Homo sapiens: one gene and its partners. The protein of the gene in region 3 purifies or fractionates together with the protein of the main gene of each other region. This does not show direct contact. Each region holds a gene or a part of one and is shown on either strand. Other genes may lie near its edges.

Region 1 (3,500 bases), on a different chromosome or scaffold from region 3:
AAACTGTAAGTTCCACCTAAATATACTGTTATTAACAGACTACTCATAACTTGTTTTTTTTAAGATTGTTTTCTACAAAACTCAGAAATTAGAAACTAAGCTCACACCTGTAATCCCAGCCCTTTGGGAGTCTGTGGTGGGAGGATAGGATTGTTTGAAGCCAGGAGTTCGAGACCAGCCTGGGCAATATAGTGACACGCCCCCATTTCTTAAAAAAAATGTAAAAGAAAAAAGAAGAAAGAAACAAAAAACTAGATTCTTATTTCACTCCCCTTTTTTCCTCGATGATTATATCAAGGATTCAGGTGGCAAATTTTAGCAAAGGAAATAAAACTTTCCTAATATCCACTGGAAGATGTACAAGATGCAATTTTAAAACGCTGATTTCTATACCATGTGTTATCTGTCTCCAGTGATACTGAGTAGTCTCATTCAGAGGCTCCCTAAGGCGGGGGGAGAAAAAGACACATAATGAATGTTACATTACCTTGTTTTAAAAACAGATTGTTCAGAGATTTTCAATGATGGGTATAAGCTCAGTGGATTTTACAAAATCAAACCTCTCCAGAGCCCAGCAGAATTTTCTGTTTATTGTGACATGTCCGATGGAGGAGGATGGACTGTAATTCAGAGACGATCTGATGGCAGTGAAAACTTTAACAGGTGTGCTAATTATGATGTAAGACTTTATATGTAGCAGCAAATGTGAGATTTATAAGTCAAATATTTTGATCATATCCTGAAGCCTATTAATTAGACAGAATTTCAATCTCTCTAAAGAAGAATACTGAAAATGAATTAACTAATCAAGAAAATATTGGAGGTGGTGGTAGCAGGGGGTGGGTGGTGGTCGCTTTGGTACCACAAATGGAGTTTGCTCTAATCGGCTTCCACTTTACCTTTTTTAGAGGATGGAAAGACTATGAAAATGGCTTTGGAAATTTTGTCCAAAAACATGGTGAATATTGGCTGGGCAATAAAAATCTTCACTTCTTGACCACTCAAGGTAAGGTTTGAATGATGTCAGATTTATTTGAAATATAATAAAAACAACACTAAAATTTTTTTTTAACCAAATTATAGGCAATGGAACTAATTCAATAATTGCTATGATTTGCAGATGGCAGTGATAACTTTTGGGCAATAATCCCAAATGTAAAATGTGGCTGCCTAAAATTAGAAACAGAAAAAAAAGCTAGAATTGGGTTGCGGGGAATTGTTTTCACATATATATTTATGAGAAATATCTAAATATATTTATAGATATATATACATTCTATACATAGTATATATGTAGCTATATATAGATATATAGAATATAAGTCGCTATATGTATCTATAGATATATATAGAATATATATATATTCTACTTCTGAAAAGGATATATAATGTCATAATTATTCCTTTTTGATGCCTTGAGTTCCTGGAGATTATATATGCTGTATCAGTTACCTAATGTCACAATAATAACGTGTAACAATCCTCTTCCAAAGCTTAGTGGCTTAAAATCAACAACCATTTATTACTTCTCACAAATCTGCAGGTTGGCTGGGTGATTTTGCTGATCAGGGCTGGGCTCTGCTGATCATGGCTGGGCTTGCTTATGAGTCTGCCATCAACTTCCTCACTGAAGTTGCTGCTCTGGGATGGAAGGATTCAACCTGGCTCCATAGGGTCTCTCATCTTCCAGCTAGCTAGCCTGGACTTGTTTTTGTAGCACAGGCAGGGTTCCACAAAAAAGAGTGGATGTATATAAGTCTCTTGAGATCTAGGCCCAGAATTGGCATGGAGTCATTTTTCTTCTATTGGTGAAAGCAAATCACAGGAGCAGCTCAGACTTTTTTTTAAAAGGAAGTAAACAATAGGAGGAGCTATGAAGACATATTATGAGAGAGAGGTGAACAATTGGGCAATTGGTGCTATTTTTCCAATAAAACACTATAATATATGAAATGTCCATGTTTCCACATACATCTCATCTTTAATGCTGAAATTTTTTCAAAGCTGCAACCAATTTGAAAGAAGTTTCAACCTACCACCTGTATCCTACATTAACATTTTACTTTGCTTGTTTTTGTTACGTATCTATCCGTTTGCCCATTACTCAATCCGTCCATCAATCCATCTTTTCTGTATATATATTTCAAAGTAAATAGCAGACATCTGGATGTCTCCCTATATACTTTTAAATTCTTATCTTTAGAGTTTAATATTTGTCTAAAATATCATTGTTTTGATAACGACTTTTCCCAGCTTCTATCTCCCATGTTCTTTTGCTCCAATCCATTGTCTTCCCTACCTCTGTTGTAGTCTGAGATTATCATCAGTCCCACTCAAGTCTGATCCTGAATCCTTCATAAAAGGCAACTGTAATGCCCAAAAAAGCATGCTAAGTTACACTGCAATTGCATTAAAAATAAACAGCTGGGCATGGTGGCTCATGCCTGTAATCCCAGCACTTTGGGATGCTGAGGTGGGTGGACCCCTTGGGGCCAGGATTTCGAGACCAGCCTGGCCAACATGGTGAAACCCCATCTCTACTAAAAATACAAAAATTAGCCAGGCATGGTGGCACAGCACTGTAATCCCAGCCACTTGGGAGGCTGAGGCAGGAGAATTGCTTGAACCCAAGAGGCGGAGGTTGCAGTGAGCCAAGATTGCGCCAATCCACTCCAGCCTGGGTGACAGAGCAAGACTCTGTCTCAAATAATAATAATAATAAAGTAATTAAGATAAAACAAAAGTTCCTTTGTTCCATCCAAGTTCTGGAAAGCTATTGGTGTTTCTATATTTATAGTAGTAGGCTTATGGTTATAAAGTTCTTTGAGACACTAGAATGATAAACATTAGACAGGATGAGTAATCCTAGAAACCTTATACTTTCTTTGTATGTCCTTCTTATGATCAGTGCTCTCTAAATTTACATAACGCTTCCTTTCCTTCAACATATCTATTATTCTAGTTTTAAGTGTTTTATGCCAGATATATAAAATTTGCCATACCAACTTCTGTTTCATTTGCACATTGATATTTATCTGGTTTCTTATTGAAACTATGAAAACCCCAGAGCAGTAACCCTTGGCTCTTTCTAAATATATGAAATTCAAACGTATTATTTTTTAAGTTATTATGATGTACATATTTTCCCAGAGGAACTTTGCCAACAAACCTGTTCCTTTTCATATATCAACTTGGTACTCAGGCTGGCTAATCTCGTTGGAGAAAAAACGTGTTTTTCAGTTCCTGGGCCCCCACCCACGTATCCCATCAATCCAGACAATAGCCAGTGTTTTTGTCTCTGCATTCTTTAATTATGAGAGCATTACGGCTAATGAATTAATGAATTACCTCTGAGAATAGCTTTATCCCCACTACATAAATCTCAACTAGAAGTAGTGGCAATAAAATTGATTTAGAAATGGTAAATATAATTTGTTTACTTATTGAACAAAGAGACATTTCAATGTTAGCCAAAAAATTGAGTCTTTATGTCTCTGTTA
Region 2 (3,500 bases), on a different chromosome or scaffold from region 3:
CAGGACTTCTCTCCTGAACGCTGTATATGTTGTTTGGAGAAACAATTACAGACATCAGATTTTCTTTTCTGTTGTAAGAAGAGATGATGCGTAGACATTTAAATTAAATCATTTGTTAATATCCTATACTGACAACCTGGCAGCGTTTGCAGGAGTGACACTGTGGACATGCTGTGCCCCACACGCTGCGGCCCCACTTACGCTGCTGGAGACGGTCCCCCACCCCGGGCCTCATCCTCAGCGAGGACCCCTGCCTGACACACACGGAGCTGGCAGTCAGCACCCCACCCCGCATGGAGCTGCGCAGCCCTGTGTCCCCACACACGGAGCTGGCAGTCAGCACCCCACCCCACATGGAGCTGCGCAGCCCTGTGTCCCCACACACGGAGCTGGCAGTCAGCACCCCACCCCGCACCTTGTGTCCCCGCACCTCGGCCATATTTCAGTTAACTACCAGATTCATCAGTGGGCCGGGGATGTGGGAAGCAAGATGATTCCCTGGTAGGCTCCACGGGGTCTCAGTGGGAAATGCAGGTGGAGGGACACAGCAGCCCTGGAAGTCCCGCGGCGCTGCCACGGGGAGGGCTGGACCACCCACTGCGGTGCCTCTCCCTCAGCAGGCACGCCCTCGTCGGCCTGGTTAGAAAATCATCTTTTGGCCTCACTGTGCCAGCCTAGTCAGCTCTCAGCTCCCTGAGTCAGGGAAAGGGGTGGAAAAGTGGACAGTCCAGCAGCGCATGTTCTAGAACCCTCTGCAGATGCAGCCAGGCCAGCGAGCACACGCAGGAGGCAGACGGACACCTTCTTGGGTGTTGAGTGGCTGCTCCTGCCTCAGGGCTGCAGATGCAGGCTCACAGCCCCCTGGTGAGTCCCGGAGTGGCTGCATCCAATCTCCAGATCCTCTGTCTTCCCATAAAGGAGACTGAACCCGTGGTGGTTTCTAGATCAAGATTTTTCTCTGAGTAACTCAGGGTTATTATAACATGCAACCTATGGTCACTTTGAAAAAGCTAATGAAAAAGCACTTGGATTTAACTTTGTGTCACTCAATTTTGGTATAAAACAACAACAACAGAAAACCAAGAACACCAAATTTACCGTAACCACAGTAAAATACGCATTTGAATATTCCGGTAGGAGGGCAGGCATCCCCCAGGTCCTGATAGATCCACTCCAGCAGTCAGGCCTGTGCTTGGGGACGCGTGGGCGGGTTGAGGATTGAGACGGTCTCTGATGATGCTAAAGAAGTGTTTCCTTTCTCTTTCCCCTTTCCCCCAACAGCTGCGGATAACCGTCTGGTCCTTGTGCACAAAATCCGTGTCTTACATCAAATACCCGAAAGCTTGTCTGCAGGGTGAGTCGATCGGAGCCACGCAAAAGCCATTTCTTTGCAGCTGTTTGACTTTTTTGTCACGGGAAGTTTCAAAGAGGCAGAAGTAGCTTCAGCAGCATATCAACACATAGCCAACCCCCTTGGGCTCTTTTAAAGGAGACCTTAGGTCTCCTCATACTTCATCTGTAAATATTTCCATATGTGTCTCAAAAAGGCAAGAGTCCCCTTTTAAAACATGACCACAGTGACTCAAGACAACGTGGCCTAAGACATGGAAGAACGGTGGCGTTGATGCCGGTCCCCTTGACCTTGGCGGCAGAGCTGGGCGTTCAGACCCCTTCCAGCCGATGCCTGTTGAGAGGCCCACCTCAGGCATCCAGTTCTGAGCTTTCTCTCTTCTGTGGACTAAATATGATGTCTGCGAAAGGGGGAGGTCTTGCCTGTCATCTCTGGGCATCCCAGAGGGATATGTGACCAGTGTCCCTTCCTTGTGGAAGCCTGTGAGCCATCTGGAAGAAAGGGGGCCGGCGCAGGGTGGCCCACTGCCAGCGCGTCTAACTGGACCGCGCAGAGCTAGTGGGAGGTGCCACTCCTGAGTCCTGGACGACACCGCACTGTCTTTTTGCGGAATGAAACATACACAGTTGGAATGATGCTTTCATTTTTCTCTGTTGCTGCCAGCGGTTTGGAAATTGCATTTGAATGCAATGCAGTCACACTCTTATTCTTATAGTTGGAATATTAGCGTCCCTCCAGATGAGATACATATCTCTTGATAGGAGTGGACACCGTGGTTTCGTCATTTGAGGTATTCTTTTCACTCAGGAATGATGAATTCTGGCCTAGGGCTTTTTAAGCTAATACAGAACTGGAAAATAAGAGTTTAACATTTTCAACTAAAGTTTCTTCCACATTTTCATCTTATTATTACTTTTTTGAGACAGGGTCTTGCTCTGTCACCCAGGCTGGAGTGCAGTGACACGATCACAGCTCAGTGCAGCCTCGACCTCCTGGGCTTAAGTGATCCTCTCACCTCAGCCTCCTGAGTAGCTGGGACTACAGGCACACACCATCACAGCCGGCTGATATTTTGTAGAGATGGGGTTTCACCAAGTTGTCTGGGCTCCTTTCAAATTCCTAGGCTCAAGCGATTCACCTGCTTCAGCCTCCCAAAGTGCCGGGATTACAGGCGTGAGCCACCATGCCTGGCCACACATTTTCATCTTCAGTTTACTTCTTCCAAATAATTAAATTCAAAGGTAAAATAAATATGGTAGGAACCAGCTGCCTTTTGCCTAGCTGGAGATAGCCCTGGGTGTCCCGCAGCTTAGACATGGGGGGACTCGAAGGCCTGTGTTTCTCACTCATATTTGTGATTAATCAGAGGTCACATCACTTGGTATTTTTGACAGAGCCTTGCAAACCGGCTCCTGTGTGTGTACAGCTTCCCCCAGCACACACTGCGTTGTGAGGGTGAAGGCACCGTGCCTTGGGTTTCTCCTCTGCGCTAGAATGTTCTTGTCTGTCTGAGGAGCAGTGCTCGGCATTGTGCCATTTCCCTTCTTTTCACCTCTGCTTTCTTTTCCTCCTCCTTCCTTGTGAATTACTACTGTGGTTTCTCTTGCTTGATTTTGTGGCCGCTTGATTTCAGTGCATTTGCCTCTTCCCACAGGAATCACCTTCACCAGGGACGGCCGCTACATGGCGCTGGCAGAACGGCGCGACTGCAAAGATTACGTGAGCATCTTCGTCTGCAGTGATTGGCAGCTCCTGCGGGTAAGGCGTCCCCCAGACTGGAATAAAGTTGTCCTGCTGACTGTGGAGGGATCGAGTGAAGTAGATCCTTCCAGATTCCAGGGGATCTTTGGTAGGATATGGAGCAAGGTGATGTTGTATTAACAAAGGGCAGGTGCGCTGCGAATCACTTCCAGTGGCACCCGGTTGTGTGTTCAGGAGACTTGGTGAAAAGGACGCGTGCCCAGGTGTTTTAAAAGTGAATATGCTGTCACATTTGAGCCCTTTTCCTTGTCCTGTGTGATGGTGTTTGCGCATGTGTGTGCCACGTCGGGAGTTGGGGGGACGTGGAAGTTCACCTTGACTGAGGGCCTGCATTAGGCAGGGCGCTCTGCCAGGTGCCCAGGCACAGAGGGCACTGCCCCCACAGCAG
Region 3 (3,500 bases):
GCAGCACCCAGGGGCTCTTCCACAAAACACCAGTGGCAGCAGAAGTCAGACCAGAGTGAGGGAGCAGGGCCTCATGGCTGGCAGGCACTTGTGGGGAGTAAAATGTCCCCAAACCAACTCCCTGAATCTCACCCATTCTACAAGAAGGATACAAAACTGTGCTCACTGGCACACAGAGCACCCAGGTCTCAGCCACCAGAGCTTTGTGATACCCCACCTCTGGAGGGCCTCTCTCTGATCTTGTAGGTGGGCAGGGCTACTCTACACTGTCCAGCGATAAATCTCCCCTCAGTGCCCATTCAGCAGAGTAGTTCAGGTCTCAAAAGGATCATTTGCAGTTCCGCCTGTCCCAGACCCCTGTATTTGCAAACATATGTCGAACTCTTCCTGCATGCCAGGGAAAAAAAATAATGAGCACTTCCCTCAACAGGTTTACTGGCTGGTGTAAGAGTGTGAGTTTAGTGGAATTAGGACATAGCCATGGGGTGCAGAGTCAGAGAGACGAGAGCTCTGTTACGTGTCCTGGTGAAATGAAGGTACCTAAAACAGTGTAGGCACTCAGAGTAACAGTTCTTACTATTACCAACATCATCAACATCACCATCACTAACACCACCATAAACATCATCACTATCATCACAGTCATCACCGTCATCATCACTATCACCAAAGCATCATCACCACCATCAGCATCATCACCATCATCACAGTCATAACCATCATCACTGTCATCATCACCATCACCATTACCACCATCAACATCATCACAGTCATCACCATCACCATCACCACCATCAACATCACCATTACCACCATTAACATCATCACCACCATCAACATCACCACCATCATCAGAGTCATTTACCATCACCATCACCAACATCATCACAGTCATCACCATCATCAGGGTCATCACCATCACCATCAACATCATCACCACCATCACCGTCATCATCCACCATCACCACCATCAATATCACAGTCATCACCATCATCATCATCATCATCATCACCATCATCACTGTCATCATCACCATCATCATCATCAGTCATCACCATCATAAGGGTCATCACCATCAACATCAACATCATCACCACCATCAACATCACCATCATTACAATCAACACCACCACCATATCCATCACCACCATCAATATCATCACAGTCATTACCATCATCACCATCACCATCATCATCACCATCACCATCACTGTGATCATCACCACCATCAGCAGCAGCACCACTATTATTATTATGGTGCTGGTATGAAAGACTTTCTCAGGAAATACTTAGCCTTCACATATAATTTTCATCTCATAAATAATGCAGGATGCACAGAAGTCCCCCGGAGGAGCACAGGGCAATGCTATTCCCAACTCTCTACCACAAGTGGTGGTCTTTCTCATAATGAGGACATAATCTGCAAATAGTGAAAGATTCTGGTAACTTCAGGATGCTGAGGTCTCTGTGACAAACCTTCATCCACAGTCAGAATTAAGAAAGTTGTGTAGCAGTTTGTGTCCAGGGATGAGATGGAAGGCAGGCCAGCAAGAAGGGGCTCATGTAGACATAGTGCTCTCAGAACTTCCAGTCTATGGTTTCCCCTTGTGAGCGAGACTCAAGGTAGTCTCCAGTCAGTCAGGCAATGCCACACTATCTATGGGGCTGAACCTCATGCACACAGATGTGGAAATGATGCCCCTTGCAGGGTTAGGTGATGGTACCATTCTGGGCATGTCATGAGCCTTTTGGACGTGCCAGAATCCTTCCTATTCACACATGGATCTAAGCTGAAAGAGGAGGGCTCCAGCTCAACAGCCCTGGTCTCCTTTGGCTGGCTGAGGAGACGGATATGGATTGAGGGATCTAGGACACCTTCAAAGTGCAGGCACTCCAGCAGCATCCCCAACCTTCTGACGATGTCCCAGGGACTCGGAACTAGCTGCTTTGCTACCACACTTGTACGCGTGTCCCTGCTAGGATCTAGTAATTTTTGTTTTCTGCCGCTTGCCAAAGTAGCCATTTCCTATTGAGAAATGTCAATACTGAAATTTAAATTTTAAAATCAAAAGAGTTCCAGTGTTTTCTATACCTGCTAGTGAGGGAAGAAACAATTCCTTCCTTGCTTAGCTGCAGTGCCTGAGAGCTACAGAAGTAAGCAATAATTTTTTTTTTTTTTTTTTTTTTTGGGCCAGAGTGCTTGCTCTGTCACCCAGGCTGGAGTGCAGTGCACGGTCTCAGTTCACTGCAATCTCTGCCTCCTGGGTTCAAGTGATTCTCCTGCCTCAGCCTCCCAAGAAGCTGGAATTACAGGCATGCACCACCATGCCTGACCAATTTTTGTAACTTTGTAGAGACAGGGTTTTGCCATGTTGGCCAGGCTGGTCTTGAACTCCTGACCTCAGGTGATCTGCCTGCCTCGGCCCAGTAAGCATCTTTTAATGGGATTTCTATCAGGTCAGAAAGTCTTGGACTGAGATCCAAAAGCCTGCCATGCAGGCTGTTCAGAGACCACCTCTACACTGTGCAGGCTTTTGACACTAAATGAAGTGCAAGTCTCAAGGCTTGCTCCATCTCCCAGCTTGGTGCTTACCTAGCACAAGAGGCACGTCCTGGAAGAGGAAGCGGAGCTCCCAGGAAGGGCATGGCTCACTCTGCCCTGTTTCCAATGCTGCGGCTAACCCTTCAGTGTCCATTCATCACTGCTCATGGACAGTTGCTCATGTGTGGCAGGGTTCCTACAAGAAGGTCACTTCCCAATTTTAAAAAGCTCTGGGGAGACTGGTAACCAGTTTTGCTTATACCTAATCTTCTGACATCTTTTTAGTTCTGAAGCTATGAAAAAAATGGACCAATGGCCCCAGATGCCTGTCAAATATGAATAGATTAATAAATACTTTAAATTTGTATTGTCAATACCCAAATATGCACTGAATTTTACTGGTCTGTTGTTGAGATATGAAAGTCCTTAGACTTCAAAATGATAATTAAATAACTTTTATAATAAAACGCATTAAAGAGTATCTAAAATCAAAATCAAAATGTGTTATTGGGCTGGGCGCGGTGGCTCATGCCTGTAATCCCAGCACTTTGGGAGGCCAAGGTGGGCAGATCGTGAGGTCGGGAGTTCAAGACCACCTTGGCCAATATGGTGAAACCCCATCTCTACTAAAAATACAAAAATTAACCAGGCATGGAGGTGCACGCCTGTAGTCCCAGCTACTCGGGAGGCTGAGCCAAGAGAATCATTTGAACCCAGGAGGCGGAGGTTGCAGTGAGCCAAGATTGTGCCACTGCACTCCAGCCTGGGCGACAGAGCAAGACTCCATCTCAAAAAAAAAAAAAAAGTGTTCTCAAAGTAACGAGTTTGGCTGGGAGCAACGGCTCATGCCTGTAATCCCAGCACTTTGGGAAGCCGAGGGGGGCGGATCACAAGGTCAGGAGATCGAGACCTTCTTGGCTAACATGGTGAAACTCCATCTCTACTAAAAATACAAAA
Region 4 (3,500 bases), on a different chromosome or scaffold from region 3:
TTGACTAACTATCTGGGTCTCAAAGTTTCTCTTGGAGTATAATTCAAATTCCTGAAGTGTCCACTACATGATATAAAATGCTATTAACTATCAAGGAATTCTATCCAACTAGTATTAATATACTGTCACACTAACAAGAGCTGGATTTTTTTTTTGGCAGAGGTTCCAGAAACGCCAGATTAGGAGATATCTTCTTGCAGCATGCAGCATAGCAGCCCCTGCCCCCTCTCACCCAGTCCCCCCACCACTTACCGCTGCTCTAGTGTAGTCCCCAGTGGCCAGGGAGCCGGTGGAGCTCATTTCCGCAATAAGGAGGCACCCCCGATGCAAAGGCAGGCCCACTTCTTGCAGGCCTTTCACAACTCCTGAGCCTGGCACCACGTGAGCATTTACTAGATCTGCCCAGGAAGCTATTTTAAAGATACCTCCTAAGAAGAAGGGGGAAAAAAGATATTTGCTGATTTTCAAACAAAACCTCTAACGTCTTGTCCAACCAACCAACTACAATATGAAATAATCTCCCAGTAACATGTTAATGAGAGAATCAAAACTCTTCAGGAACTTTAGTGATTATCAGCAGACCCATGGTTCCATCTGTGAAAACTGTATCTGTTATTCAGGTAAGTAGCTGGGTGAGAGATCACAATGAGAAAAAACTTTCAAGGTCTGCACTTGGCTTATCTGGAACACTAACAGGACTCTTTTTCCTTGAAGGCTGAAGCTCATGACCACAAATAAAGCTCATGCTATTAGAAAGGGACTCCAGTGAAGATAAACATTTATTGATGTCAAGGATAACATTTAAAAATTCCTCTTGAAGCTGGGCATGGTGGCTCATGCTTGTAATCCCAGTACTTTGGGAGGCTGAGGTGGGCAGATTGCTTGAGTTTAGGAGTTCGAGACCAGCCTGGGCAACATGGCAAAACTCCATCTCTACCAAAAATACAAAAAAATTAGCTAGGTGTGGTGGCGCATGCCTGTGGTCCCAGCTACTTGGGAGGCTGAGGTGGGAGGATCACTTGAGCCCAGGAGGTGGAGGTTGCAGTGAGTCAAGATTGCACCACTGCACTCCAGCCTGGGCGACAGAGCAAGACCCCATCTCAAAAAAAATAATAATAAAAATAAAATTCTTCTTGAAGATGACAAGTTTTCACTCTGCAGGGGTCTCTCAGCAGCTTTACTATCGCTCAATATTTCTACGTGTTCCTTAGATCTCCTTAGCTATCTAATTTCAATAGGCAACTATATTCCTTTTAAAAGCGGACAGTAACAAGCCTGATTTTCGAAAAAACTCTATGCAGAGCTGAAGAAAGTTTGTATAAAACTCTTATGTCAGTCAATCAGCTAAAGTAAGCTAGGCAATGTGATGAGGGCAGGACATCTTAAGCACATGAAGAAGTCACTTAAAGACAAATCTATTTTAAAGAAATAGCTTATGAACATGCATACATTAAAGAAAAGTTACCTCAAAGATGCCTACAAAAAATGTTATATGACACAACCAAATATCTGTTACCAGGTTAAGTGAAAAATGCATTAAATATAGTCTGATCACACAGTTGTAAAAACATAGACAGAAATTTGCATAGAATAGGCAGTAGAACTAAGCATTTTTCTCAACCAACACATGCACTACTTTGAGTCCCTATTTGATAAAAGAAAAATCTTTAAATAATGTTTATCAATAGAACTTTTTCTGCTACAAATAAATCTTACCATTTTATATTTCTTTTTCATTGTTTCCTTTATGTGGAATTTTCATTCAAAACATCATATTCTGCCAAGGACATCTGTCAAATTTGCTTGCCCAGGCACATACCCTTCTTCTGGTACTAGCACATCCATTTTCTTTAAGGAAATTATCCCTGACTGGTTCTTATTTCAAGAAGGTCATACAGAGTTAACAACCTCACAGTTGCAGAGCAAATTGCCCAGGCTAGTTAATGAAGGTATTCTACATCCCAAGCTAGAGTGATTGGTTTGGGGTGAGCATGCAGAGTATGCCTACCTGAGAAAGAAGTCAACAGAGAAGAAAGCAGAGCTGAGAGATGGAGAGAAAGCAAGTCATGAAGATATCACTTGAGCTCCTGGATCCAACCACGCTTGACAGCCTGCTCTATGAATGGACTTTCAATGACATGAGCATTTCCTTTTTCTTCTTCAGTTTAAGCTGGATTTCTGATTCTTGCAGATTCCTGAATAATACACTTACCTTCATACTGCTTTTTCACTGTGTTTCCTATATCTGCAAACTTCCGGTCTTCAAATATCAAGAACTCATGGCATTTTGCCAGAGTTATCAACTCCTTCATCACATCCAGAGTAAAATCATTCAAAATATCTACATGAGTCTTCAGCATGCAGATACTAGGTCCTAAAGCATCTGCTAGCTGCAACAGCTCTCTGGCCAGTGAAACATCAGCAGATAGACACAGATTGGTCTCCTTCTTTTGCATAAGCCTGAGAAGCTTCGATGCAACTGGGTGGATCCTGGGCAGCTCTGCACGTGCACCGAAGCTGAGTTCTTTGGGTGCTTCCTTTATAGAAAGGGGAGAACCATTATGATTCGCTGCCACAAAGACATTCTCCTGAATAAACCTCTTCACTCTCCCAACTGTCTCAGCATCAACTTTTTTCTGCTGCTCGAGAATCTCCAGCATTTTGGACAATGTACACACTGAGTGGAGGCGGATCCCGTGCGCCTGCAACTTGTCCTTGCCTCCCTGCTCTCTGTCCAACAGCACTATGGCATCAGTGACCTTCAAGCCCTCCTTCTGAAGAACCTCAACAGTTTCCAAAACACTAGATCCACTGGTGACAACATCTTCAATGATTAAACAGGTTTCTCCTGGATTAATAGTTCCTTCTACAAGACGCTTAGTTCCTAGAAAAGAAAAAATTTTGCTGATTCCAAATTTAAATATGTATGTATATGTGCGTATATACGTACACACACTCTGTATACAAAACTTGCCAGTTACACATACAGTATATGTGTATACCAATTCTGTATACCAAACTTGCTAGTTGCACATACAGTATATTTATGTATAAAGCCAACTCTGTATACCAAACTTGCCAGTTACACATACAGTATATTTATAGTAAATCAAGTAAATTATTTCACATTATAAACACTGCTTAATGTGTTTTATGATCAAATTTTCAAATAGAGAGGTTTTTTTTTTACTTTAAAAAAATCTGTTTTATCATAGAGATGAGGTCTCACTATGTTGTCTAGGCTGGTCTTGAACTCCTGAGCTCAAGTGATCCTCCCGCCTCAGCCTCCCAAAATGCTAGGATTATAGGTGTGAGCCACCACGTCCAGCCTAAATACAGAGTTTCTTACAGCAAGATCACCTAGATCAAGGAAAGTTATGAAACAGAATAATCCAGTATCATGAATGAAATAATTCCTTTTTCCATCAAAGTATTTTAAGTTCACTATTCAAGATCAGCCAAATAATTGACTTTTTGAAGACACAAATTCAGAAGGAAAA

Evidence for each region.
Region 1: the proteins of TNS3 (region 3) and FGL1 purify together in Homo sapiens (co-immunoprecipitation; one large-scale study listed by IntAct). This does not show direct contact.
Region 2: the proteins of TNS3 (region 3) and WRAP73 purify together in Homo sapiens (co-immunoprecipitation; one large-scale study listed by IntAct). This does not show direct contact.
Region 4: the proteins of TNS3 (region 3) and UMPS purify together in Homo sapiens (affinity purification with mass spectrometry, with the first as the bait; one large-scale study listed by BioGRID). This does not show direct contact.

What each region holds. Positions count from the first base shown.
Region 1 is NC_000008.11:17,871,525-17,875,024, reverse strand, and holds part of FGL1 (fibrinogen-like protein 1 precursor), read left to right. Parts: intron 1-503; coding exon 504-663; intron 664-908; coding exon 909-1,006; intron 1,007-3,500. UniProt on the Homo sapiens protein: Immune suppressive molecule that inhibits antigen-specific T-cell activation by acting as a major ligand of LAG3. Responsible for LAG3 T-cell inhibitory function. Binds LAG3 independently from MHC class II (MHC-II).
Region 2 is NC_000001.11:3,636,604-3,640,103, reverse strand, and holds part of WRAP73 (WD repeat-containing protein WRAP73), read left to right. Parts: intron 1-1,281; coding exon 1,282-1,354; intron 1,355-3,005; coding exon 3,006-3,109; intron 3,110-3,500.
Region 3 is NC_000007.14:47,362,112-47,365,611, forward strand, and holds part of TNS3 (tensin-3), read right to left. Parts: intron 1-3,500. UniProt on the Homo sapiens protein: May act as a protein phosphatase and/or a lipid phosphatase. Involved in the dissociation of the integrin-tensin-actin complex. EGF activates TNS4 and down-regulates TNS3 which results in capping the tail of ITGB1.
Region 4 is NC_000003.12:124,736,952-124,740,451, reverse strand, and holds part of UMPS (uridine 5'-monophosphate synthase), read right to left. Parts: intron 2,885-3,500; coding exon 2,213-2,884; exon of another isoform or gene 2,009-2,212; intron 429-2,008; coding exon 253-428; intron 1-252. UniProt on the Homo sapiens protein: Bifunctional enzyme catalyzing the last two steps of de novo pyrimidine biosynthesis, orotate phosphoribosyltransferase (OPRT), which converts orotate to orotidine-5'-monophosphate (OMP), and orotidine-5'-monophosphate decarboxylase (ODC), the terminal enzymatic reaction that decarboxylates OMP to uridine monophosphate (UMP).